4 linked regions of the Homo sapiens genome follow. The protein of the gene in region 1 purifies or fractionates together with the protein of each later gene. This does not show direct contact. Each region holds a gene or a part of one and is shown in the gene's direction. Other genes may lie near its edges. The genes, in order: ARMH4, CD320, NDFIP1 and BMPR1A.

Region 1 (7,025 bases):
GTGCAAATATGAAGCTCATGTGAAAACCTTACCCTGACTCACATTGTTTGTCCTGTAACCAGGTATATTAATCCATCAAATGTAAAAATCTCTTCAATTCAAAAGGAAAAATAGTGTTAACTGGATGAGTACCAAGAAAAGGAACTGCTTATAGTGAAAAACAAACAAATACACATTATTTTAAAGCAAATACATTGTTTACAAGGCAACTTTTTTTTAAAGTAATAGGATATGCCATGATGTCATTAATAAATTTTTTTTTTTTTTTTTTTTGAGACAGAGTCTCCCTCTGTCATCTAGGCTGGAGTGTAGTGGCATGATCTCAGGTCATTGCAACCTCCGCCTCCTGGGTTCAGGCAATTGTCCTGCCTCATCCTCCCGGGTGGCTGGGATGACAGGAATGTGCCACTATGCCCAGCTAATTTTGTTGTGTTTTTAGTAGAGATGGGGTTTCACAATATTGGCCAGGCTGGTCTCGAACTCCTGACCTTGTGATCCTCCCGCCTCAGTCTCCCAAAGTGCTGGTATTACAGGCATGAGCCACCGTGCCTGGCCTGTCATTAATAAAAACTTTGAGGAACCCTTTTAAAGCTATCCCTAGAATGTTATTTTTCATTGTATAACTTACTGATCTTGCTAAAATACTTAGTATCTAGAACTAATATTTTAAAAAAGACAATAAGGTTTTCAAGAAATTAAGTTTTTAGTAGTTGCTCTGTACAGTGTTTGAAATTTCTAGCATAGCCCCTTCATAAGAGGGAAAATCTTGACTTATAAGTAGTCTGTTGAAGGCAAAACATTTATATGATCTGAAGAGAAAGCAGAGTATTATTATAAACAGTCTTTAATACTGTATTTGAGGGAATTATAATGTTGTAAAGCAAGTGGACCTGTGACAGATAATGTCATACCCTGCCAGTTCTATTCATTTCCTTTTCTGATCTGAAAGCAAATGCACACCTTCTACAGAGGCCTCTCCAAGGTGTTCCTTGGGCATAGTTAGTACAGTGGTTAAGGGTGCTGGCAATGTGAACAAAGGCATGCTCCTTAGCTTTTCTAAACCTAAGTTCTGTAAAGTGGAGTTATAATAGCTGGTAATTATTGAATACTTACCAAATACTAGGTGTTTTACTTGTGTTATCTAATCTTTGTAGTAACTCTGTGAGATAGATACTATTATTATCCCCATTTTATAGCTGAGGAAACTCAAGGCCCACATATGTGAAGTAATTTGTTTATGCTTACACAGCTAGTAAGTGACTAAGGCAGGTTGGCTCTGGAACCTGCATTCTTGAGCACTATGATGCAGCTTCTGTGGAATGATATTAGTACCTATCTCCCTGTAGTACATATGGGAGGATGCATACTTAAGATACTATATGTCATGCACTTCGCATGGTGTTTAACATAGAAACTCAGTAAATATTAGTTATTGTAATTATTACTCCTTTATTTTAAAATGTGAGCTTCCCTTGACCCTCCAGAAATGCAAATGTGAAAATTAATACACTGTATACAAATGTTTCTGAGAGTTTTTGAGTGTAACTTAGTTCTGTATAACTTGTTTCTTAACAAACTGATTATGTTGACATTCAAACATGTGCCTGAAAGGGAGCTCAGCAATTGATCTTCCTACTTTGTTTTAGATTTCATTTTAGCTTTTTCCATGAACTTCTTTATCTCTGTTGTAGATTGATTCACAACTACTGAAAGCGTGACAGAGAAAACATTTATTTACTGTCATTTTACTTCTGAGTTCTCTCTTTGCTTCCCCAGTTCCTGAAATAGCATCTGCTCCCCTCCCCCCAAGTTTTTAATCATATCATGATTTTTTTTTTTTAAAAAAATAGGGATTTGGTCTATTTTTAAATGTTTTCCCCCCTTTAAGACATCATCACTCAAGAGATGACAACAGCTGTTCAAGAGCCAGATGCCACTTTATCCATGGTGACACAAGAGCAGGTTGCTACCCTCGAGCTTATCAGAGACAGTGGCAAGACTGAGGAAGAAAAGGAGGACCCCTCTCCTGTGTCTGACGTTCCTGGTGTTACTCAGCTGTCAAGAAGATGGGAGCCTCTGGCCACTACAATTTCAACTACAGTCGTCCCTTTGTCTTTTGAAGTTACTCCCACTGTGGAAGGTCTGTAAGGGAGGATATTGGACTCTGTTTTGGGGGTGGATCTCTTCTGTTAAGTGGACTAGGAATAGAATGAGTGAGGCAGCCGACATTGCCATCAGCGCGCGCGTGCGTGCACGTACACACACACACACACCTTTACCTGGAAAGGGGTGTGAGCTCTGTCCTGTTTGAAGAGGTGTGGCAGAGCCTTAAAAGGACAAGGGTTGGCCGGGCGCAGTGGCTCACGCCTGTAATCCCAGCACTTTGGGAGGCTGAGGCGGGTGGATCACGAAGTCAGGAGATTGAGACCATCCTGGCCAACGTGGTGAAACCCCGTCTCTACTAAAAATACAAAAAATTACCCAGGCGTGGTGGCGGGCGCCTGTAGTCCGAGCTACTCGGGAGGCTGAGGCAGGAGAATGGTGTGAACCCGGGGGGCGGAGCTTGCAGGGAGCGGAGATGGCGCCACTGCACTCCGGCTTGGTGACAGAGCGAGACTCCGTGCCAAAAAAAAAAAAAAAAAAAAAAAGGGACAAGGGTTTAGTTTGTAAGTAAGGTCTCCTGGTGGCTCACCTCTGGGTCCTCAAAGGCCAGACCCCCTGAGAAGGCTCTTCCTGTTTGGCAACTCTGCTGCTAGGAGCCGGGGGGGATGAGGTGAAAAAAGCATGGACCTGAATTTGAATCGCAACTTTGGCTTTCACTAATATTGTAGCCTCAAGCTAAGTTTCTTAACTTCTGTAAGCTTTGGTTTGTTCACCTCTAAATAATGCCTATCTGTTTTATAGGTTATTTTAAGAATTTGAAATCATGTCTACAAAGTGCTTTCTATATAGGAGGCTCTCAAATGCTCTGATCTCTTAAAGGCAGTGAAGTTTTCAAATCTATGTGAAAGCTACTGCTGTTCTAGAGTCTCTGGACTTGGGAATTCCTGGGGCTATATTTGGCTGCTTTTAAATTGACATTCCAGACCCAGATCTAGGCTCTTACTCTATGACTTGATTTTGAGAAAGACACTCGATCTTTCCAAAGTAGTCTTTGAAATACAGTTTAATATATTTTTGTTAATTATTTTACCTTTGGCAATACATAATATAAAATCTTACAACATCCATAATATTGCCAATAGAATAAATGGGAGATTAAAATTTAAAAACAAAGTTCTGATTAGAGATAATACATTTTCCTGTAAGACAATACATTTTCCTGAAAGTCTTTGCTTTGGGGAGTTGGATTAATACAATATGGGAAAGGAGAGCTGACCCAAGTGCCAAACTTGCTGTATTGTATGATATTGGTTTAATCATTTCTTGCCTAAAAAGTGAAAGCACATGCTTACATTTGCCATAATGATTATCTTGTGGGTCAAGTCCTGTCTGTTGTGTTTGGCAGAACAAATGGACACAGTCACAGGGCCAAATGAGGAGTTCACACCAGTTCTGGGATCTCCAGTGACACCTCCTGGAATAATGGTGGGGGAACCCAGCATTTCCCCTGCACTTCCTGCTTTGGAGGCATCCTCTGAGAGAAGAACTGTTGTTCCATCTATTACTCGTGTTAATACAGCTGCCTCATATGGCCTGGACCAACTTGAATCTGAAGGTATTCATGCTTTGAAGGGGATCTTTTCAAGGACTGGTTGAGTGAGTCACTGAGCAAATGTTTTTGAAAAAGAATTAAGTAGGAGTATATTCAATCTGCAGTATAGATCAGAGGACAGTAAACTACAGCTGGGCCAAATCTGGCCTGCCACTTGTTTTTGAATGGTTTGTAAGCTAAGAATGGTTTTTACATTTTGAAATGATTGAAAAAAAAAGTCAAAAGAAGAATAATATTTTGTGACATAGAAAAGTTATAAAAATTCAAATTCCAGTGTTCATAAATAAAGCTATATTGGAACACAGCCATACTAATTCATTTTCATATGTGTGTGGCTGCTTTTGTGCCATAGCAGCAGAATTAAGAAGCTGTGACAGAGACTCAGTGGCCCACAAAGCCTGAAACATTTATGATAGGGCCCTTTATAGAGCAAGTTTGCTGACTGTGCTATGGATCTGTGGTTCTCAACTATAGTTGACCATTAGAAATACCTTGGAGAGCTTTTGAAACATCCCAGTGCCTGAATCACTCTCCAGTGATTGAGATTAAGATGGTGGGGGGTGGAATCTGGCATCAGCATTTTAAAAGACTGCCTTAGATGATTTCAGTATTCAAGCTGGATTGAGAATACTAGGTTAAGATGGAGATGTTGAGTTTCCCCACCAGATTTTCTTGGTTGCAAGTTTTAATGTGGGGTGTATTTTAACAGCATTGCTCTGGTTGTTAATGCTGGGTTATTCTCCCTTAGTAACATCTCTGGGTTAGTCTGTGCTACTATTTGGAGATAGGCAGTCTCTTTATTTACTAAGACCAAGAAATTCATGCCAAATTGTACTTTCCAAGACATTGGCTTTGAGCATGTAAAAGAAACTTGAGGCACGGCTGCCTATCAACAAATAAGAAGACTAGAAATATGACACATAGTCACGTAATTAATCAGCATTTTGGCAGGTGAATAGTTCCTGGCTGGAGATACAAAATGTCCAGAGATTTATAGTGCAGAATTTCTTAAACTAATCTGGAACACTGGTAAGCTTTTGGGCACTCAATTAGCCATGTGTTTGCTGCAGTAAGAGACATAGGATGTGCTATTATTTTTTTTTGTCTAAAGCGAAGGGAAGGAGGTTGAGCTAGGTTTGCAGCTGACTCTGGTGCAGACTTTCTGGGTAACACTGGTTGGCTGCTGACAGAGGAACATGACATTTTAGGAGCAGTGTGGAGAATTCCACAGTAGAAGCCTGGTTTAAGAAACAGATCAAAGTGGGCTCAAAGGCTAACAGCTCTTGCATTCCACATTAAGATAAATACTGTATGACTTTGAGTTTAGCGTCTCATATAAACTGTCTGCTCTCCTTGATGCCATCTGGAAAAAGCAGGTTTCCCTAAATTAACCTGAGTTAGACATGACAGCTTTACCCAGCAGGGCTCATTAAATCAGAGAAAAAAAATATTTGTGAATAATCCATACTTGTGAAACTGCAGTAACTTTCTAAATTTAGTAGATGATGGCAGTTGTATTGAAATATGTTAGAATTTTCCGACATGCCTAAGGTGTCCTGGGGTTTTAGTTCTTTTCTTCTACACAATTCAATTTTGCTACTTTTTGATAATATATTTTGTTAGTTTTTGATCTAAATTATCCTTGTCATGGGTTACAAAAATATTTTTGGTCAAAAGATATTATTTTTGCTACATTGTCGGGCTTAGGATTTTGAATTAGCACATTTTTACTCGTAAATGCCAAGGAGTACAACTTATGTTTAATTAGTATACGTTAATAATACCATTGTTAGTTTTATGCTGGTGCTTCTAGTCCTCCAAAAGCTGAATTGACTACACTGATTTAAACAAATCAACCTACTAGACTCCTGGATGTATTGGAGGCCTCTATTTTCAATGCATGTTTTTCTACCTTGCCCGGGAATATAAGTGCAGCTTGAAGCTTTGACTGGGTGAAACATTTTAATTCTTCCATAAGCTTATGCCTAGAGGCAGGTAATTTTTTTTCTTATCTAGAACCCTGTATTACTTACGTCAGGTTAGCAGCCTTTCTTGTTTTAGTCTTTGTGATGAGTTTATATGTTATTTTAATATCTTCCTTTTTCACTAGGGGGCAGGAGCATTTCTCTGGGAAATGAGGTACTTTTCTCCATGGGATTTGGAAAGGGACATCCTTTGTTAGACATTAGACACCAAAGAAGAATGAACCTTTATGGAAATTTCTGAATCCGCAGCTCTGTTTATCCTTTAAGCGATAACTAACAGCCCAAATCAGTCTAAAAATGATGTCTACTTGCACCCTGTCTTCTTCCCTGCTTCTCACATCTCTACAACATGATGACTGAGAGGGGGTATGAGTTTTCAAGGGCTGTCATAACTAAGTACCACAAACTGGGTGGCTTAAAACAACAGAAATTTATTCTTACGCAGTCTGGAGCCTGCAAGTTGGAAGTCAAGGTATAGGCAGGGCTTGCTCTCTCCAAAGCCTCTAGGGGAGGAACCCCAGGGTTTCCTTGGCTTGAGGCAGCATGACTCCAATCTATTCACATGGCCGTCTGTGTCTCTGTGCTCAAGTTTTCCTTGCTTTTTAAGAACACCAGTCATTGGATTAGGGCCCATCCTAATGACCTCATGTTAATTATGTATGCCAAGACCCTGTTTTCAAATATGGTCACATTCACTGGTACTACCGGTCAGGACTTGAACATACCATTTTGAGGGACACAATTCAACATGTAACAGGGGTCTGCTTCTGAAGAGTTTGCCAGCTGTCTGTGAAGACAGACGTGCTACCTGAGTGATGTGAATTGGTAGAGTGGGAGAAGTTTTGGTGTGTTTTCCTTTTCTTAGTCACTGAAGAAAGCCTGCCTTGATAAGTGCCTGCCACCTTGTGCATATTTCAGTGTCTTTTATCTTGTCAGCAAAAATGCAGTTTGATTTTTGAAGGGATAATGGTTTATTTTTCACCTTGCCTGTTACATTTGATTTCTATGTATGACTTTTTTTTAGGGATAAATATTCTCACAATGATAAATGCCTTATACTCATTTCAGGCATACCTCTACGAGGGCTGTATTTAGCAGCTTTGAAATACAAACATAACAAACATGTTCTTTTTATTCAAAATGGGATAATGACAAATTTTATACATATTTTATAACTGCATAAATTAATTTTTGGACATGATCTTTGTATAGGTTGATTTTCTTCTCTTGTTGAATATTAATGTCTTTCCTGCTCTAAAATGCCAACTTAAAATTTCTGATTAGTCTTGAAAACATACCTGGAATTTATGTGGGTTAACTCTTTA
Region 2 (7,294 bases), on another chromosome or scaffold:
AAATTAGCCGGGAGTGATGGTGCACACCTGTAATCCCAGTTACTTGGGAGGCTGAGGCAAGAGAATCACTCAAGCCTGGGAGGCGGACGTTGCAGTGAACTGAGATTGTGCCACTGCACACCAGCCTGGGTGACAGAGCAAGAGTCTGTCTCAAAAAGAAGGAACTCAGTGGAGTGGTCCTTGTTGTCACCTTCTGATTCACTGGAGTCCAGCACCAGAGTGTGGCAAGATACCTTGTTCCCACACAGCCCCTTGCCATGCCCCCAGAGATGTGTGCATTTCCCAGGGAGGCCACTTCTGCCTTTTCCATTTCCTTGAGGCTCCTGGGAGGTCCTGTGCCTCCACCCCTGGGGCGCCTCCTCCATCACCCCACCCTCCTGCTTCCTTTCTTGCTTAGGCTGTGAAGTGTGTGAGCTCCACAGGCTCAGGTGGGTGGGGTGAGAGGGGAGGGTGCTCGTCCTGGACTTGCCGGCACAGGGTCTCCTGGGGGCTCCCTCTTGGCCAGCTCTGGGCCAGAGATGCGTTTTGCAGTTGCCATTTGCGCATGGATTCTCAGCCCCACCAGCCTGAGTCTTCCTGAGGGCGGTGCCCCATCTTCCTGGCTCTGCGCCCACACAGTAGCGCCTGCCATGCAGTTCTTGCCCAGTCTGAGGCAGGAATAGCTGGAGGCCATTGTCACCTGATCGCTTGGCCCTTTTGCCAGCATCCTGTTTTGAGGGGCAGCAGGAATGGGGGTGGGGGCCTTGTGTACGCTGGAGACCAAAAGTGGGAAGGGAGGAGCCCAGCTCTCCACAGTGGGTTCTGGGCCTGGGGGCCACAGCAGGGGGTTCATACAGGGCTCAGGGGAGAGAGGAGGCTTGCTAGCTCCCACCTGGCGTTGGCTGATCCTCTGAGGGGCTGCGTTGGAGGGGTTGGCATTCTGGAACACCCTGCTGTCTGTCCTGCAGGTCCAGAAAGTCCCTGTGGGTGTGTTTGTCCCGGGGCAGGTGTGGGCTCCCTCAGATCTTTCCACACTGTTCTTTGGAAACCCTCACTGAAGTCTTTCCCTCCTCCAGCTCTGCTGTAGCTGCCACTGAGAAGAAGGCGGTGACTCCAGCTCCTCCCATAAAGAGGTGGGAGCTGTCCTCGGACCAGCCTTACCTGTGACACTGCACCCTCACGGCCACCCGACTACTTTGCCTCCTTGGATTTCCTCCAGGGAGAATGTGACCTAATTTATGACAAATACGTAGAGCTCAGGTATCACTTCTAGTTTTACTTTAAAAAATAAAAAAATAGAGACAGAGTCTCACCATGTTTCCCAGGCTGATCTTGAACTCCTGGCCTCAAGCGATCCTCCTGCCTTGACCTCCCAAAGTGCTGGGATTACAGGCATGAGCCACCACACCTGGCCTGATTTTATTTTTATTTTTTAGACCTTCCCACTGAGGCCTCTGCTTGACCTTGGTCACCCTGTAGCTCAACGGGGAAGGCAAAGGACAGTGAGGGCTGCTTACAGGGAAGGCAGACCTAGGGCAGATCAGGAAAGGCCTCCCTGAGCCAGAAACCATTATGCTGGGGCTGTGGGATGAGAATGAGTTAGCTCCAGAAGGAAGGCAGCTGGTTCCTGGGGAGGAGATAGAAATCTGGCTGCAGGAGCCAGAGTTTTCGCGCTTGTCACCCAGGCTGGAACGCAACGGCACGATCTCAGGTCACTGCAACCTCTGCCTCCTGGGCTCAAGCAATTCTGCCTCAGCCTCCCGAGTAGCTGGGACTACGGGTGTGCACCACCATACCCGCTAATTTTTTTTTTTTTTTGTAGAGATGGCCAGGCTGGTCTCAAATTCCTGACCTCAGGTGATCCGCCCGCCTTGGCCTCCCAAAGTGTTGGGATTACAGGTGTGAGCCACCACGCCTGGCCCCTGATTTTAAGCAATACCCAGCTTACTTGGATTTTGGGGTGAAGTCAGTGCTGAGTCTCCCAACTCTGTTGGCACTCCAGGGGTGGGACAGACACTGTCCCTGGGTGCAGAGGCCCTGGAGACAGCACTGCCCTTTCCCCCAAAGGCCAGGCTCTGACCTTGAGAGTGGTGGGAGTGGGTGATCCTTCTGGGAGGTTGGACTCCCAGGACCGCTGGCTGTTGGGGAGCATTGATTGTGAAGACCAGTCAGGTGGGGTAAGGGGTGTATGTGCGGACACTCAGTAGGCCAGCCACAGACTTCTCACTTCTTTTTTTTTTTTGAGACAGAGTTTCGCTCTTGTTGCCCAGGCTAGAGTACAATGGCGCGATCACGGCTCACTATAACCTCTGCCTCCTGGGTTCAAGTGATTCTCTTGCCTCAGCCTCCCGAGTAGCTGGGATTACAGGCGCCTGCCACAAGCCCAGCTAATTTTTGTATTTTTAGTAGAGACGGGGTTTCGCCATGTTGGCCAGGCTGGTCTCAAACTCCTGACCTCAAGTGATCCGCCCACCTCTGCCTCCCGAAGTGTTGGGATTACAGGCGTGAGCCACCGCGCCTGGCCTAACTTCCATCTCTTGAGGGCTCCCACAGCCACTTCTCACATGAACCTTCCTCAGCACCTTCCCACTGAGGCTCCTGCTTGACCATGGTCACCCTGCAGCTCAACGGGGAAGGCAGAGGACAGTAAGGGCTGCTCACAGGGAAGGCAAACCTAGGGCAGATCAGGAAAGGCCTCCCTGAGCCAGATCCCATTATGCTGGGGCTGTGGGATAAGAATGAATTCGCCCCAGAAGGAAGGCAGCTGGTTCCTGGGGAGGAGACAGAAATCTGCAAAGGGAGGGTGTCCAAGTCTGGCTGCAGGAGCCACCCAGTGACCCTACGCAGGGGAGTGTCATGGCTTCCCCAGGGCACAGCCCCAGACCCTTCAGCAGCTAAAAAAGATCAGCTGTGGACCAAGAGGGTGCTGAGACCGCCCTGCCCTCTGGAAGGGGAAAGGCCACGGCTACAGGCAGCAGGTACCAGTGTCCCAGAGTGGGTCCTACAAAGGCTAACACCTTCCTGGAGAAGGTGGGATTCTGCTTGGGGCAAAAGGATGAATCAGATTCAGAAAGGTCAGGAGGGAAGGAAAGACTAGGCAGGGTGTGCAGAGGCCACAAGGAGGGCAAGACCCTAGGCAAGGCATGCCGCTGACGGCATCTGAACCAAGTTTTATGACCACAACTTTTTTTTTTTTTTGAGACAGAGTCTCACTCTGTCACCCAGGCTGGAGTTCAATGATGTGGTCTCGGCGCACTGCAACCTCCGCCTCCCGGGTTCAAGCGATTCTCCCATCTCAGCCTCCCTAGTAGCTGGGACTACAGGAGCATGTTACCACACCCGGCTAATTTTTGTATTTTTGGTAGAGACGGGAGTTTTACTATGTTGGCCAGGCTGGTTTAGAACTCCTGACCTCGTGATCCGCCTGCCTCGGCCTCCCAAAGTGCTGGGGTTAACAGGCGTGAGCCAGCGCGCCGGCCAACTTTTCTAACAAATGGGGTCTCACTGTCACCCACGCTGGAGTGCAGCCCCAAGTGATTCTCCCACCTCAGCCTCCTGAGTAGCTGGGACTACAAATTAGAGCCACCATGCCCAGCTAATTTTCTTTTTTCTTGAGGCGGGCGGGGACTTGCTGTGTTGCCCAGGCTGATCTCGAACTCCTGGGCTCAAGCGATCTGCCCGCCTCTGCTTCCCAAAATGCTGGGATCACACACGTGACCCACCGCGCCCGGCCTTTATTATTAAATTTAATTAATTAATTGATTTCCTTTCCTTTTTCCCCCCCAAGCAACCCGACTCCGAGAATGGACGTTTCATTTATTCATTTACTCACCAAATGTTTACTAAGAGCCTACTATGAGTCAAGCACTATGTGTCAGATCCTGAGAATAAAGCAGTGAGCAACAGAAGATCCCTGCCCTCCAGTAGCTAGCATTCTATGGGGACTCGGACAACAAACCAGAATAAGTAAATAAAATAAATTACCTGTCGGCGCCACAAAAGCAGTGGGATGAGGGAGGAAATGCGGAGTGCCTGAGGGGCGTGGCTGCCATATTAAAGAAGATCACGAGGCAGTAACATTTGCAGCAGTCCTCATTTGGAACGGGAAATAATGCAAATGAACACCAACAAATTCCTTCCCATCCCCAGAAGTTTCTAACTTCAAGCGGGCTCCATACCTTTCAACTGATCTGGTCACTGGGGAAAGTGGGGACGGGCCTCTAATTCTCTTTTCCCTGCTATTCTGACATTTACGGTACGCGTAGCCGCGGGCGCCGCAGAACTCAGGGGCTTGGGCCCCGCCCCAACCCCGCGCGTGCGCGTGCGCAGGGATAAGAGAGCGGTCTGGACAGCGCGTGGCCGGCGCCGCTGTGGGGACAGCATGAGCGGCGGTTGGATGGCGCAGGTTGGAGCGTGGCGAACAGGGGCTCTGGGCCTGGCGCTGCTGCTGCTGCTCGGCCTCGGACTAGGCCTGGAGGCCGCCGCGAGCCCGCTTTCCACCCCGACCTCTGCCCAGGCCGCAGGTGAGTGACGCCCCGCAGCGCGGGCTCCCACCCCTCGCGAGGCTTCGCCCCGCCGCCGCGCACCGACAACGCCTAGTCACTGGCTGCACCGCACGTCAGTTCATGACACTCCCCCAGCACGTGGACTTGGACTTCATCGCTTGTGGGAAGGCGCGCACTGGTGCTAGGAAGACCCCATGCTGGGGGAGGGGAGGAGGGTGTCTCCACCTGCCTTTAACGGTTTTGCTCCGGCCCTGCACACCGTCTCCACACCTGCTGTGCCCTGTCGTCCCCCATTGTCACCTCCAAGCCGCCCTTCATACCAGCGTGGTCAGGAAAGCTCTTAGCAGGCTCAGATTGTCCGACCGCTAATCACGCAGGACGGGTCACCTGGTGCCTCTCGCACCTTTGCCTTCCAAACCCTCGCGCCCAGGCCTTGTGACCGTTCCGCAACCGTCCCTGCCCTCCCAGTCTCTCCTCCTTTGTCCTCCATCCTTAGAGAACGCGAGGTCTCTCCCCCCCATGCTACTGCAGGCTCTCGCAGAGACTGGGGTCACAAGTTGAATATACCCCCGTGGACGTGTTCGCCCTGGCCTAAGAGGTATTGGTGGCCAGTGGGGACGGGCTCCCTCTCTGATACCCCTAGAGGCAGCTGGAGGGTTGGAGTGGCCTCCCTGTGCACTCAGGCACTCCCAACTTGCAGCCCTGGGCTCAGGCTCACACACTTTCCCAGCTCCTTTGTGCATTCCGCACTTCTAGGTCCCTGGACTCATCCCAAAGTCCCTGACATTCACGTTAAATGTTCCTGGGTTTTTTTTTGTTTGTTTTTTTTTAAGGAGGCAGCGTTCACGTTAACCAAGTACAAAAGTTTTTGTTTTTTTTTTTTTGAGTCTCCCTCTGTCGCCCTGGCTGGAGTGCAGTGCAATGTTGGCTCACTGCACCCTCCGCCTCCCGGGTTTAAGCAATTCTCATGCCTCAGCCTCCCGAGTAGCTTGGGACTACAGGCACCGTCACCATGCCCGGCTAATTTTTGTATTTTTAGTAGAGATGGGGTTTCACCATGTTGGCCAGACTGGTCTCGAACTCCTGACCTCAAGTGTTCTGTCCGCCTCAGCCTCCCAAAGTGCTGGGATTACAGGACAAAACTCTATACACAGTCTCTTTTTTCTCAGGATGTTGAGGTAGGGATTCCCAGCATACCCCGTTTACAGGTGAGGAAACTGAGGCCAGGAGAGAAAGTCACTGGTCACTGTAACTCCTGTCAGGCTTACACCCTATGAGGCGGGGACTGCTGTGCTCTACTGTCCACTTTGCAGAGGGATACACACTCCCGCAGTCCAGCGAAGGGAGGTCAGAGGTGTCAGGGCTGTGGAAGTCTGCGCCTGGGTGGAGAGCCACACCTGGAGGCTGCCAGATCTCCCGGGGGCGGGGAAGGAAGCAGGCACCGGTTTGTCCACAGCTCTTCTGGGATCCATAGAGCTCAGGGACCCTGTGGCAAGTAGGTGCAATTAGGCCTGAAGGCCGAGGAGGGGCTGGCAGTGGGGAGTGGGGGGTTGGAGGCTCATGGCTGGTGGGTAAAGGTGGAAGAGGTTAAAGGCCTTGGCAGAGTGAAGCTAAGCCAGGGTGGCGGATTTGCCACCTCCCCTGGCCGCACCCAGGAGGAAGCCGTAAAGGCCACTCCCTTCCTCTGTCCCTTGGCCCAGGTTGCGGGCCCCTCCGTGCCCCTCCAGGTCGGCAAGCAGCTGAGCTTCCCTGCTCAGAATCTAGGACAGCCGGGATCTTCTCTGGACCCAGCTTGGACCCTTATGTGACCTGTGTCCACTTATAATCAGGCACTGCCCTGGGTTTAGGCGGCCAGGTCACAGCCCTGACCTCCACAGAATGTCCAGTCTGTGGGTGGACAGGCATGACCAGGGCTTTAAGGACAGTTGTTAGACATGGGAGGCAGTGCTTCCTAGGTCTCCAAGAGGGACATGAGAACCCTCCCAGGAAATCAGCTGAGATCTGAAAATTGAGGGGAAAACACAGGGTGTAGGGAGGAGAGAGGGAAAGGCAAGTCTCTGGTGTCCTAATGGACCTTGGGGCCTGGGGCCTGGGGCTCTGGTGAGGAGCTGACACATTTAGGATGGGGAGAGTGATAGGTCTGGGAGGAATTCAGGAGGCGGGGCAACAGGACTTGGTGACTGAGCAGATTTTCTACCCAGTGCCTCAGTTTCCCACCCACTGCCTCAGTTTCCCTTTTGCTACGCAGAGGAGATAGACCCTCCCTGCTGACCTGAGCCCGGGAGCCTGACCCAGGGCATGTGGAAAAATGGCCCGTCCCTCAGTCTCTTTAACCACTGAGTTTGGAGGTCTCCCTGGCAGATCATCTCGCTATGAGGAGCCTGGTGAAGACTCTGGGATCAGCGAGACCTGAGTTCGAAGCCCAACTCCGCTACCAGCTCTTTTTTTTTTCTTTTTTGTGGTGACGGAGTCTCGTTCTGTCGCCCAGGCTGGAGTGCAGCAGTATGATTTCGGTTCATTGCAACCTCCATCTCCCAGGTTTAAGCGATTCTCATGCTTCAGCCTCCCGAGTAGCTGGCATTACAGGCGTGCACTACCACGCCCGGCTAATTTTTGTATTTTTAACAGAGACGGGGTTTCCATGTAGGCCAGGCTGGTCTCGAACTCGTGACCTCAAGTGATCCACCTGCCTCGGCCTGCCAAAGTGCTGAGATTACAGGCGTGAGCCACTGCACCCAGCCTCTGCCACCAGCTGTATGGCCTCCTCTTGGTTCCTTTCTCTGTAACCTGGGGAGTGCAGTAGCACCTGC
Region 3 (7,025 bases), on another chromosome or scaffold:
AGTCCAGATCATGTCATTTGTGGGGACATAGTGAGTTCAGATTCCATCTAGCCTGATGTTGATTCATGGAGGTGGAGATTGGGATGCCATATAAACCAGTGGAGATTATTGGGCACTCTTGGTTCTTGATGTCAGATATGTGAGTGCTGCATTTGTCATTTTGTAAATATTCATCCAGATTGAGGCTGATGAAGGTAGGGCATTGTGGGAGAATGGAAGCAGGATAAGTCCCCAGAAATGCGGGGACCATCAGGCCTCTAGGCTCTATTCTAGCAAGTAACTGGAGTGAGTGATGAGCAAGTACAGAAGCCTAGTCTGGGCAGTGTGATGGCATAGGCCCAGATGTTCCCCTCTTGGCTTTAAGATAGTAGACAGTTTGCAGACCACACCTACTGTGAGGAGCGAAGCTCCTAAAATCATTGCTTGGTAGAAATAGTTTATGAGCCCAATCTAGGATGATCCTAAATGGCGATGATGTGCATTCAGTTCTTACAGGTACCAGGGAGAAACTAAAAACCCTAGTGTCTAAGGGCAAGACCATCATAATGTAACTGCCGTATATTGGAAGCAAACCACATGCTTGGTACTGTGCTTGATGCTTTTATATATTTTGTATATTGTTTCCAATCTTCATAGTAACCTTGAAAGGTAGAGATTATATTATCTCCATTTTACAGATGTGAAAATTTAGGTCCAGAGAGAAAAAGTAATTTTCCCAAAGTCATATGACTGATAAGTAGCAGAAGTGAAAGTCAAACCCAGATATTCTAGAATCCAAAGTCCTTGTTTGTTTCACTGTACTCTGCAGATCTGTTGCAATATATGGTAAATAGATCAGTATGGAAATTAGCTCTGATTAATCACATAACTCTTCAGAATACTTTCATTTGATACAAGTACATATTTAGGAACTTCTTAAAGGGCTCTAGTATTCAGCAGACATGTATAAAGCACTTTTTAAATATAAGATGCAGTATATTTTACAGTGGATAGGTAAAAAGCTTTGTATAAGGCAGTGTTCCTCATTGTTATTCAAAAGCCTAAAATCCAACTAGGGTAAAGGGCCCACAAATACTGATAACTAAGACACATAAGAGCAGTGGGCATCAAGAACTGAAACTTTTTACTGGGTGATCATAGGGGAAAATGAGATTTGATGTGGGCCCGGAGTTTTGATGGGTAAGAACATTCCAGAGGGAAAAAGGCACAGAAAGCAGGTGTGAATTCAGCCAGGTGAAGGCAGTTCTGTGGATGTAGTAATTGGCTTTGTATGAGCAAGAGTTTGTGAAGGGAGATAGAAAGTCCTGACTACAACTGTTGTTTATAGAATCTTTGGAATGTTAGATGGGCGTATTTAAACTTCATATGTAGCTTTTAGAGAATCCTTCAGAGTTTTTGAGCAGGGGTATGAGAGGACTTGTGTGGTGTTTTGGAAACATTAACTTGGCAGCAATTTCTAGGATGCATCATGGTAGAAGAGATACCAAGAGGACAGGAAGAACAGTTAGAAGGTGTTCGTAATATTATTAGATGTTACTTCCATATATTTTTTGGAGTATATCTTTGAATAGTTATGCAAAAAACAATTAGCTTTTAATTTTGGCAAAACCTTATTCTGCTGATACGAAGTAAGAATACTAGGTATTTAATGTTTTAAAAAATTAATTATAAAAATTCGTTTTTATAGAAATTTCAAACAATAGAGGAAGTATGTTAAGTTAGAAAAGGAAGCTGCCATTGCCACCGACTTCCCTTTCTCTAGTTCCCACTCCCCAGGGGAACCACTGTTAACAATTTGGGTCTTCCAGACCCTTTTCTGTGTACAACAAGTTTTGATATTCCCTAAAATATTTTTCATTTAAGGAGCCCTCATTGAACTGTGTACAAATCTATCACTTTTAAGTATATATTCAATTATTTTTAAATATCTCAACACACACCTATATCAGTTAAAAAGATAGCCCACATGTGTTGGTATTGTTCATGATCATGTTATTTCTAGTTTTGCAATATTACGTTATCAAGTTAGGATGGAAAAGATCTTATCTGCTGATAAGGTTAGAAGTGAGATTTAGATCTGTATACCAATACAAATACATGCTTATGGAGTTGAGCAGTGGGCAGTTCTGTGGACTATTCATGTATGATCGTACTATTCTTTTTTCCCCTATATCAGCCTCGTAAAGCACTTGAGCTGGTTGATTTTATCTTTTTTTTTTTGAGACGGAGTCTCACTCTGTTGCCCAGGCTGGAGTGCAGTGGTGGGATCTTGGCTCACTGCAAGCTCTGCCTCCCGGGTTCATGCCATTCTCCTGCCTTAGCCTCCCGAGTAGCTGGGACTACAGGTGCCCGCCACCACTCCCGGCTAATTTTTTTGTATTTTTAGTAGAGACGGGTTTCACCATGTTAGCCAGGATGGTCTCGATCTCCTGACCTCGTGATCTGCCTGCCTTGGCCTCCCAAAGTGCTGGGATTACAGGCATGAGCCACTGCACCTGGCTGATTTTATCTCTAATTACTAATATTTTAGGTCCTAAACAGGTCCTCGATTACTGATATTCTAGAATTTAAACCAAATGTGTAAGTAAATTTTGTCTTTTGTCTTTTCTTGAGGTATATTTTTTTAAAGGAAGAGTAAATAGTTCTTTGTGAACTATTCTTGAAGTGTATTGTTTTTGAAGTGTATTAAATTTTTGAAGTGTATTGTTAAAGAACTTGGGTTATAAGATGAAAATTTCATTTAGAACACTGGGGATAGAAGAAAGATTTGCTTCTTTTCTAATTATATATTAATAATGCAAAATGGAATTTTAAACACACATTGAGCCTTTAATGCTCATAATTTTGAACTGAACCAAAGCAATAACTTTTTTCCTTGCTACTCAAATTTAACCCTTCATTTTTCTTTATGTCTTCCCTTTGCCTAGAAATAATTCTTTTTCTTTTCATTTAGGATGAGGATTTTGTGGGTCGGGATGATTTTGATGATGCTGACCAGCTGAGGATAGGAAATGATGGGATTTTCATGTTAACTTTTTTCAGTAAGTATGTATGCATATCAGAACCACCCCCTACAAACTAGAGTGCTTTGGATTATGGGTGAATCTGACTGAATTAAAATAACTAGTTGAGCTAATATATTAATACATTATGTTTATTTGGTGCCTTTTACTGGAATATTCAAAGCTTAATATACCTTTGTTTTAATATCCCTTCTCTTTGCCTTCTATTTTCATGAATATCTGTGGAAAATATAATTAAAGCAGTTATGAGGATGCTGCATTTTTACATGAGCTAAGCCTCATCTTCCAGGTCTACGGGGCCCTTTTGCGTTGCTTCTACTCATACTTAATCTGTAGAATAGGAATTAAATGCCTTTGATGAATTTTGCTCTGAAAGCTTCTTTTTTCTGACAGATCAAAGTCAGCCTGATTTTCTCCCTTCATGTTACTTGCCATTTATCTTTTTGTGTGCCTCACATAGAAGTGAGCAACCATTTCCTTTATTTGTTGTATTAGAAAGATAAGAAAATGCAATGCTTTTAGAGGTGATGTTATATAAGTTGTCAAAATTCAGAGAACAGGAGGATGAGTGACTTGAATCAGATTATTTGGGGGCACTTATTTAATGTTGAAGGCATTTATTTTATTTACTGGACTATATATATATAACACACACAGTAAAAAGCAGAGGTCAGGCTGGGCATGGTGGCTCATGCCTATAATCCCAGCACTTTGGGAGGCCGAGGCAGGCAGATGCCCTGAGGTCAGGAGTTCGAGACCAGCCTGGCCACCATGGTGAAACCCCATCTCTACTAAAAATACAAAAATTAGCTGGGTGTGGTGGCAGGCACCTGTAATCCCAGCTACTCAGGAGGCTGAGGCAGGAGAATCGATTGAACCCGGGAGGCAGAGGTTGCCGTGAGGTGAGATCGCACCATTGCACTCTAGCCTGGGGGACAAGAGTGAGACTTCGTCTCAAAAAAAAAAAAAAAAAAAGAGGTCAAAGGCTGGGCACAGTGGCTCATGCCTGTAATCCCAGCACTTTGGAAGGCTGAGGTGGGCGAATCACCTGGGGCTAGAGGTTCAAGACCAACCTGGCCAACATGGAGAAACCCCATCTCTACTAAAAACAAAAATTAGCCGTTAGCCGGGCCTGGCGGTGCACGCCTATAGTCCCAGCCACTCGGGAGGCTGAGGCAGGAGAATCACTTGAACCTGGGAGGCAGAGATTGCAGTGAGCCAAGGTCGTGCTACTGCACTCCAGCCTGGGTGACAGAGTGAGACTCAGTCTCAAAAAAAAAAAAAAAAAAAAAAGCAGAGGTTGTAAGTATACAGTTTGGTGAATGTTAAGGTTTGCTTTTTGCTGTTTTTTGTTTTTTTTGCTTTTTCCTTTTGAGACAAGGTCTTGCTCTGTTGCCCAGGCTGAATTTGGAGTGCAGTGGTGTGATCACTTCTCAGTGTACCCTTGACTTCCTGGGCTCAAGTGATCCCCCCACCTCAGCCTCCCAAGTAGCTGGGACTTGCAGGTGTGCACCACTGTGCCCGGCTTTTGTTTGTTTGTTTGTTTGTTTTGTTTTTTTCAGTTTTTGTAGAGATGGGTCTCACTGTGGTGCTCAGGCTGGTCTCAAACTGCTGGGCTCGGGATCCTCCAACGTTGGCCTCCCAAAGTGCTAGGATTACAGATGTGAGCTATTGTGCTCAGCCTATTAAGGCGTTTTTGAAAGTGACTAGCAGTAGACATAAGTGTGTAAAACCTGATAGGGAGGAGTTTTTCTTGTTTGCTTTTTGGGGAAAGACAGAAGAATGGATGTTTTAGAGGAGGTATGGTGACGGTTGTGGAGGACAGGCTGTCTTTTATCCTTTGGAAAGTCATTTAAACAGAGGCAGGTGTAAGGCACTCTTGTTCTTGGGTAACAGGACATGTCTAACATCTTTCCCCTCCTCTGCTTTTGCAGTGGCATTCCTCTTTAACTGGATTGGGTTTTTCCTGTCTTTTTGCCTGACCACTTCAGCTGCAGGAAGGTATGGGGCCATTTCAGGATTTGGTCTCTCTCTAATTAAATGGATCCTGATTGTCAGGGTAAGTTGTATAACAGAAAAGATGGGCTCTACAGAGAGGCAATAATCAGAATATTTTTGAATATTCGATTTTTCATTTGCTTTTTTAAAAGTTATTTCAGTGTGTTAAATGATTTTTGGTTTGTCTGTGGTTTCATGATGAAGCTGAACCAAAATCATTTGCAAATGGTTCATGCACACAAGTTTTGTTGTCAAATCTATTGAAAACTGGTCTATCATTAATATTGTTCACCATCTGCTTTGTTTGTTTTTAATGTTTATAATATGATAATGTATATGTTCTGAAATTAGTTGTTTTTATAATAAAAGGAAGGATATTACCCCTTTGATATCTCATCAAAAGCAGCCATTCCTCTCATTAATTCTGTTACAGTTTTAATCTAGCTCTCTTCTTCCTTCTTTTCTTTTCTCCTTCTCTTCCCCTCTCCCTTCCAGGATTGCTTATGCCAAAATGTTTGGGGAGCCAAAACTGTTTAACAAGTATTGCTCCATTAGGAGCCTACCTCTCAAGTAAATTACAGAGATGTATGTCTTTAGTGACTTCAGAGTTACCAGTTAGTTAAATTTGCATGAAGTAATTTACAGTTGTAAAAGATCTAGGCTTTTAAAGTATCCTCTGATTTCAGATAAATTTATTGCTATCGTCAACCTTATAAACAAAACCAATTTATCCGTCATAAATTGGCATACTTAACTAACTAATGGGTGTTGCTTGACCACTGTAGTTTTTCTACGTAGTGCCACCTTATTTATTATAAAACATTTGTTAACGTTTTTAGGGTTCCAGAATCCTTTGGGAATCTGATGAAAGTTGTAAGCTTTTCCCCCACATAGCTAATATGTACTCATCTATAATAATGGACTTTAGGTTAAGAACTCGAGCCCTAAAGAGGTTTTCATTCCTTCCCTAAATTTTAATTGTTACTTTATTAACAAAGAAAATACTATATTTTACTTTTCGAACTACATTAAACTCTTGGACACCAAAGCCTCCAAGGAAAAGAGAAATAAAATTAATTCCAGTCTTTTTTTTTTTTCAAACTAAATTTTCAACTGCATTTAAAAAGTGAATCAAATGGGCCGGGTGCGGTGGCTCACGCCTGTAATCCCAGCACTTTGGGAGGCCGAGGCGGACAGATCACGAAGTCAGGAGATCGAGACCATCCTGGCTAACATGGTGAAACCCCGTCTCTACTAAAAAAATACAAAAAAAATAGCCAGACATGGTAGCGGGGGCCTGTAGTCCCAGCTACTCGGGAGGCTGAGGAAGGAGAATGGCGTGAACCCAGGAGGTGGAGCTTACAGTGAGCCGAGATCGTGCCACTGCACTCCAGCCTGGGCGACAGAGCGAGACTCCTTCTCAAAAAAAAAAAAAAAGTTAAATGAATTAACTTGTATCAGGTAGGATGCTTTTGACTGTGAGTAACAAAAACCTAGCTCAAAATGGCTTAGAAAAAAATTTTTAATTGTTTTTTTAAACGGGGAAATTTTATTTCCCCTGAAAACAAGTCCCTGACAAGGTTAGTTAAGTCAGTGGTTCTTTGACATCATCAAGGACAGCTGACATATCAGCATATTGGCACAGGTCCCCCCTCCCCTCAGGGTTAAAAGATGGCAGTTTCACGTATCAGTATTACATTGAAACACGACAGTGCTCAAGAGAAGAAAAAGAACTATTTAAAAAAAAATTTTCTACCACCTTTAGAAAGAACTGTTTTTTTCTTTGAGAAGCAAGGAAAGCTTCTCAGAAGCCCTCAATTTCCACTGGTCAGAATGGCATCCTGTGCCCATTCCTAAACCAGCAAGGGAAGGGGATTACCCTGGTATACATGATAAAGCTTCCAAAGTCAAGACAAGGCTGGAGGAGTAGGAAGAAAATCAGGCCTCATTAGAAAGAAGGCAATGGTATCATCTACTCAGGAGGCTGAGGTGAGAGGATTGCTT
Region 4 (7,025 bases), on another chromosome or scaffold:
TGTAACTCTTCTGCTCTCTATTCTTGCTAACTGTGGGGCAATTCTGAATTCATATTGGTGTGAAGGTAGTAGTCAAATCATAAAACGAGTTGGGCAGCTTTCCTTCTTTTTCTCTTTTTCAGGATCATTTTAGACTGGGATTATCTGTTCCTTGAAAGTTTGGAAGACCTCCCCTATGTGACCATTTAGGCCTAGATCTTTTTTCTGGAGAGGACTTTGAGTAACACTTCAATTTCTTTAATAGCTGTTGGTTTGTGTCGATTTTCTGATTCTCATATGAATTTTAATGTTTCACATTTTTTTCAGGAATTTATTTTCAAATCTAGTGTTATTTGGCTTTCACGTAGTTCTCCCCCCACCACCCCGCGACTCCACCCCCACCCCCTAACTCTAAATCAAGTTCTCATCCCACCTGGACTAATGTTATGATTTTCTTGCCTTCACTTTTCTCCTTTATCTAATCTTATGTATTTCTGCCTAAATTAATCTGTAAGCCCAGTTCTTACCACTTCGCCACTCAGAAGTTTCCTAGGTCTTCCATTAAATGAAATATTTTCTGTGGTATTTGCCTCAGATTTACCTGTTTTTTTTTTTTTTTTTTTTTAATACCTTATTGTTTTTTCTTTCTTTCTTTCTTTCTTTCTTTTTTTTTTTTTTTTTTTTTTTGATACAGAGTCTCGCACTGTCGCCTGGGCTGGAGTGCAATGGCGTGAGCTCAGCTCATTGCAACCTCTGCCTCCTGGGTTCAAGGGATTCTCCTGCCTCAGCCTCCCAGGTAGCTGGGACCACGCCTGGCTAATTTTTGTATTTTTAGTAGAGGTGGGGTTTTGCCATGTTGGCCAGGCTGGTCTTAAACTCCTGACCTCAGTTGATCCGCTCGCCTCAGCCTCCCTGTGCTGGGGTTACACAGGTGAGGCACTGTGGCTGGCCTTTATAGCAGTTTTTATACAAATATTAGTTTCACTACTAGTTTGCAGGGTGGGTCTGTAACGGACTTTTCTTGCATATTAAAAGGAATAAATGGGGAAAGGCTCCTGTCTAGCCTAACAGTAGCTGTTGAACTGTCCTGATCTGACTATTGGATCTTAGGAGCAGCGAACCATGGAGAGAAAGGAAAATGGGTTTCCTATCACACTAAATTTTGAAGTAGGAACCATTTCTTTTCCTTTTCTACTTTCCCACCTTTTACTAGTTTTTAGGCTTTAGGATGTCTTTTTAACATCACAAGGTCCATATTGACCAAGTTGGACCAACTTTTTAACACAAGATTAAATGTTGACTTGCATTGAGTTATGTCCATTGTAAGATACACAGTAGTGTTACAGACCACTTAAAATATGCTTCTAGTTGTAAGAAGCCATTGATTGTAAGGTGCACCCCAATTCCGGAGATGCTAAAATATGAAAAATGGATGCATCTTAGAATTGATGAATAGTGTTTCTCTCCCTAATCAAAGCTCTTGGATGTGCCTGGAAATCCCCAGTAGTGTTTTTTGAAAAGAACACTAGTTAGGGGCATAGGGAGATCAGATGATCAGTAGACTCCATCTCAGGGTGGCCCCTGTGGTCCCTAAGCCAGTTCGTATGGGCAGTTTAATATATAACTAATGAGTAGACATTGAATAGATGAGTAAATTATCTTTGAGTATCTTTTATTTACTCTGATGTTGTAGACTTTGTTACTCTTTTATAGTTTTATATTTCTGATGAGCCTTCCTTTCTTATGGCACAGATTTGTTATACTGTTAAAGTCTGGAACAGTGGAGCTTGGCTCTTGATCCAGCTGTATATAATTGGCTGTTGACTTATGAAGGAGGACAGGAGTATGCTAGAGATAGGGATAAAATATTATAATCACATTTGCAGTTAGGGAGATTAGTTACATGTTGGAAAATCATTTTGAAGAAAGGAAGACTGAAGATGTTCAAACTTGTAGGAAGGTCTTTCTGGCCTAGCCCGGATTAAACCCATTTATGCCTAGTGTTCCACTATTGGAACGCTAAGCACGTGGGAGTTATTTATATCCTGCTCAAGGTCATCACCAAGGTCTGATTGCAAAAATTCAAAAAATTGCAGCCTCAGGCATAAATGGGTTAAGATGGTGGCAGATAATTAGGGCCTGGAATGGATAGGAGGCGATAACTAGCGTGGATGAGAGAAGGAATGGGATTGGCAAGAACAACTCCTGGATTTCTAGCTTGGAAAGCAGGGTAGATGTGGGTGACAGATATGAAAAATGAGGTGGGAGAGCTGGTTTGTAGAAGAAAATAGTATTGGATCACATGGAGTTTGAGATATCTGAAACAGCCAAGTAGGGATTTCCACTTGGCAGTTGTCTATATGGGTCTGGGGTTTGACAGAGGTTTGTGCTGGAGGTAGGCATTTGGGAGTCATTGCTGTATAGATTTTATATTCCAACAGTGGGAATTGGGTGGCTCTCTCAAGTGACTCTTGCTTACAAGTGACAGCCCTAACTCAAGTTAGCTTAAAGGAGGGAAAAGCTTCTCCCCACTAACCCCCATGATATTGAAAGGTCTAGAAATAGACATGGCTGGACCTAAGTGCTCAAATGATATAATTAATTGAGGTTGTCTTTTCTGTTCTTCACTTTTGTGGTCTCATTTCAGGCAGGTGCATATATCTGGCAGAGGAAGACATAGGTTATAGGTTATAGAATTACAGGTTATAGGTTATAGACCTCGTATCGAGAACTCCTTGTATGGTCTAGCAAAGAGCCTAAAACAGCATTGAGAATTTTTTTTCTTTCTTTTTGAGACGGAGTCTTGCTATGTTTCCCAGGCTGGAGTGCAGTGGTGCGATCTGGGCTCACTGCAACCTCCGCCTCCTGGGTTCAAGTGATTATCCTGGCTCAGCTTCCCGAGTAGCTGGGTTTAACAGGCGCCCGCCAATACGCCTGGCTCCTTTTTGTATTTTTAGTAGAGACAGGGTTTTGCCTCGTGGGCCAGGCTGGTCTCAACTCCTGACCTCAGGTGATCCTTCCGCCTTGGCCTCCCAAAGTTCTGGGATTACAGGTGTGAGCCACTGCGCCTGGCCAGTCTTGAGAAATTTCAACTTAAGGCCTGGGTAGAGAAGATAGACATTAAATAATTATCTAGTTGTAGTTATGTTAAGATCTACAAAAAGGAAGTCCAGGGAATGTTACAAGACTGATAAGGGAAGCTGGGCTGTTCAGGATGCGGGTACTTTGGAAGGCTTTCCTGAGAAAGGTAGCCCGCAGAGTGAGACCTTAGGCAAGAAAGGACAAGGAGACTGTTTTTGGAAGTATTCAGTAGTATTTATTTATTTATTTGAGACGGAGTCTCACTCTGTCGCCCAGGCTGGAGTGCAGTGGCGTGATCTTGGCTCACTGCAACCTCTACCTCCCGGGTTAAGCGATTCTCATGCCTCAGCCTCCCAAGTAGTTGGGGTCACAAGCGTGAGCCACCACGCCTGGCTAATTTTTGTATTTTTAGTAGAGACGGGGTTTCGCTGTGTTGGTCAGGCTGATCTCGAACTCCTGACCTCGTGATCCGCCCACCTCGGCCTCCCAAAGTGCTGGGATTACAGGCATGAGCCACTGCGCCCGGCCAGAAGTATTCGGTAAAGTGAGCAGTTTTTGCAGCTTTTTAAAAATTTTAAAGGCAATACATCTATTGTGGGTAATTTGGGAAGTATAAAAAGCCATAAAGAAGCAGCGGAATGATTAAGTTTCAGCTTCTAATTTTTTATAAATAATGTCTGATACTGGTTTTACTACTGAGTACCTATTCAATCACGGATGCCACACTAACCCAATCCGAATCTTCGTTTCTTTATCTTAAAAAATAGAAGGAACATGGTGAACTTTAAGATAATTTTTCTGCTTAAAAAAAGAAAAAGAAAGAAAATATCTTGACTTGCAGCACAGTTAGCTGCCGAAATTGAAGGTCATATAATGCTTTTGGTCCTAATGACATCACTGGACTTCTGACTTTTGGCTGAAGAATCACGCCAGCCTTGGCAGTCCTTGCAAGTACCAAAGGGAGTATGGCTTATGCCTGCGGTGCCCTTCCCGTATCCTGCTTTCTTACCTCCTTTTTTGAGCATTAATTTTTTTTTCTTTAGCCTTTGGGTAAAGTATCAAAATGTTGAGAAGATAGACTCTCAATTTTGAAGGTGAGAAATCTGTAGGAGACTTGGATAGTTGTTTTTTTTTTTTTTTTTTTGAGACGGAGTCTCGCTCTGTCGCCCAGGCTGGAGTGCAGTGGCGCATGTTGGCTCACTGCAAGCTCTGCCTCCCGGGTTCACGCCATTCTCCTGCCTCAGCCTCCTGAGTAGCTGGGACCACAGGAGCCCGCCACCACGCCTAGCTAATTTTTTCTATTTTTTAGTAGAGACAGGGTTTCACCGTGTTAGCCAGGATGGTCTCAATCTCCTGACCTCGTGATCCTCCCGCCTCAGCCTCCCAAAGTGCTGGGATTACAGGCGTGAGCCACCACATCTGGCTGACTTGGATAGTTTTGATACTGTTTTATGTATATTAAGATTTGTAGGTAGTTTTCTTACTAGTAATTAAAATGCTTTGTAATGTATTTCAAGAGTATAGGGTCTTGAGTGTTTTAAATTTGTATATAAGAATGTTTTAGATTCCTGGCTAAAAGAAGCTCTTGTTAGAAAATATTAAAGTAAAGGCTGTTAAATTTTGGTGAGGCTCTTAATGTCTGCATTTTTCAAGAATCATTTAAAAATGTCATGAAATAAAAATATTTCAGTGGTAACTGTTCAGAAGTATCTTAAATGTATACCAAATCAATGAAATATAATCGCTGGGTGACAGATTATTCTTCCTTCATTTTATAATCTTTTATTTAATAAAAATGTGGGGGAAAAATTGCATGTTGAAGTTGTACGTGTATATTTTAGCAAAAACTGTTAATCTTTCTGAAGTACTGCTTTGGTCATCATCCCTATTTGTTAAATATTTTTCCCTGTTTTCTTATTTGCTTACAATAGAAAATCCAGAATATCTTGGACTGGTCTCCTGCTCTGGCCAAGTCAGCCTTTTCTGCTTTGCTTCCTTTCCTACTATTTTATCAGCCTAAGTCACGTAAATATCCGATTCAGGTTTGGGTTCAGAATCCTTAGACCTCTACTGTCCACTACAATAGATAGCCACTACCACATGTGGCTGTTGAAGACTTGAACTGTGGCTAGTCTAAGTGTGAATTACGTACCAGATTTTGAAGATAGTACCAAAAGATGTAAAATATCTCATTATGCTTTTAAAATATTGGTTATATAGTGAGATGATACTGTTAGGGATACATTGGATTAAAGAAATATATTAAAACTGATTTTGGCCGGGCATGGTGGCTCATGCCTGTAATCCCAGCACTGTGGGAGGATTGCTTGAGCCCAGCAGCTTGAGACCAGCCTGGGTAACGTGGTGAGACCTTGTCTCAGTTAAAAAAACAAAACTGATTTCACAGGATTCTTTTTACTTTTTAAATGTGGCAACTAGAAAGTTTAAAATTACACGTCATATTGGACAGTACTGCCTTTGACTTTCCTTTCCCTGGTTCTTTGCCCATCAGAATGCTTTAAAATCTAGTATAAATCCTTGGCCAGGTGCTGTGGCTCACGCCTGTAATCCCAGCACTTTGGGAGGCCGAGGCGGGAGGATCACGAGGTCAGGAACTCGAGACCAGCCTGACCAACATGGTGAAACCCCATCTCCACTAAAAATACAAAAATTAGCCGGGTGTGGTGGCACGCCTGTAATCCCAGGTACTCAGGAGGCTAAGACAGGAGAATCACTTGAACCTGGGAGGTGGAGGTTGCAGTGAGCCGAGATTGCACCATTGCACTCCAGCCTGGGCGACAGAGTAAGACTCTGTCTCAAAAAAAAAAAAAAAAAAAAAAGAATATTCCTCTCTCTCCTATGAAGCCCTCCTCAGTGGTCCAAGCCTCATAGTTGGCTCTTTGCTGCATCATTATTTGAAGATAATCTTTTGGTATATTAGATTTCTTTACTACAAACCTTCTCAGAACTTTTAATATGCTAATACACATGGTGAAACTCTAGTATAGTTTCCCTAACTACGTATTACCATAGAACTGTGTGTTTTCTGTTAACAGAAGTTACACATATTTGTGGTTGAAATTTCAAACAATACAGAAATGAAGTAATGAAAGTCTTCTGTAATCATGCTTCACCTGTGCCCCAAGATTGCCACTGTTGAAAGTATAGAGCTAGAAAAAATTTTCTTTTCTGTTGCCTTCTTTCTTTTTTTCTGTCCCCATTTCCTAAAATGGGGTCATACGATACATCCTTATCTTTAAATTTATTTTCACTGAATATATAGGGGGATTCTTTTTATGTCAGTAAATTTCAATTTCCTCATTCTTTTTTTTTTTTTTGAGGGAAGGTCTTGTTCTGTTGCCCAGGCTGCAGTGGTGCTGTGGTGCAAACAGCTCACTGCAGCATCCAACTCCTGGGCTCAAGCAATCCTCCCATCTCAGCCTCCTGAATAGCTGGGACCAGAGGTGCATGCTACCATGCCCAGCTAATTAAAAAATTTTTGTGTGTGTGGAGGTGGGATCTCACCATGATGCCTAGGCTGGTCTCGAACTCCTGGGCTAAAGTGATCCTCCCACCTAGGCCTCCCAAAGTGCTGAGATTACAGGTGTGAGGTGTTGTGCGCAGCCTTAATCATCTCATTCTTTATAGTAGTTAAGCAGTTATTCCATTTTCTGATTATACCTTAATTTTACTTACCAGTTTCGTGTTAATGAATAATTAGATTATTTCCATTTTTTTCTTTTGCATTGCAAATATGCTGTGGTGTTTGTACATATCCTTTGAGACTGTTTTTATTTTATGAAATGAATTCTTAGAAATGCATTTACTATAAGAGAAGCCGTGCAGATTGGATGGAAAGTGCCAAGCCACCCTGCAAAATCTTCGTAACCATTCATATTCCAGCCAACAGTATTTGAATATGTTCTCTCCTCCCAACATAATCATATCAGTCTTTTTTTTTTTTT

What was found.
Region 2: the proteins of ARMH4 (region 1) and CD320 purify together in Homo sapiens (affinity purification with mass spectrometry; 2 studies listed by BioGRID and IntAct, with this or other methods). This does not show direct contact.
Region 3: the proteins of ARMH4 (region 1) and NDFIP1 purify together in Homo sapiens (affinity purification with mass spectrometry; 2 studies listed by BioGRID and IntAct, with this or other methods). This does not show direct contact.
Region 4: the proteins of ARMH4 (region 1) and BMPR1A purify together in Homo sapiens (affinity purification with mass spectrometry; 2 studies listed by BioGRID and IntAct, with this or other methods). This does not show direct contact.

The regions. Positions count from the first base shown.
Region 1 is NC_000014.9:58,128,205-58,135,229, reverse strand, and holds part of ARMH4 (armadillo-like helical domain-containing protein 4 isoform 1 precursor), read left to right. Parts: intron 1-1,888; coding exon 1,889-2,140; intron 2,141-3,508; coding exon 3,509-3,718; intron 3,719-7,025. UniProt on the Homo sapiens protein: May modulate immune response and may play a role in inflammation. Down-modulates STAT3 signaling throught direct interaction with IL6ST, resulting in the inhibition of phosphorylation of STAT3 at 'Tyr-705'.
Region 2 is NC_000019.10:8,305,357-8,312,650, reverse strand, and holds the start of CD320 (CD320 antigen isoform 1 precursor), read left to right. Parts: upstream 1-4,292; 5' UTR 4,293-4,360; coding exon 4,361-4,502; intron 4,503-7,294. Other genes in the region: NDUFA7 (NADH dehydrogenase [ubiquinone] 1 alpha subcomplex subunit 7), read left to right, coding at 1,056-1,146. UniProt on the Homo sapiens protein: Receptor for transcobalamin saturated with cobalamin (TCbl). Plays an important role in cobalamin uptake. Plasma membrane protein that is expressed on follicular dendritic cells (FDC) and mediates interaction with germinal center B cells.
Region 3 is NC_000005.10:142,132,777-142,139,801, forward strand, and holds part of NDFIP1 (NEDD4 family-interacting protein 1), read left to right. Parts: intron 1-2,953; coding exon 2,954-3,041; intron 3,042-4,957; coding exon 4,958-5,082; intron 5,083-7,025. UniProt on the Homo sapiens protein: Activates HECT domain-containing E3 ubiquitin-protein ligases, including NEDD4 and ITCH, and consequently modulates the stability of their targets. As a result, controls many cellular processes.
Region 4 is NC_000010.11:86,759,606-86,766,630, forward strand, and holds part of BMPR1A (bone morphogenetic protein receptor type-1A isoform 3 precursor), read left to right. Parts: intron 1-7,025. UniProt on the Homo sapiens protein: On ligand binding, forms a receptor complex consisting of two type II and two type I transmembrane serine/threonine kinases.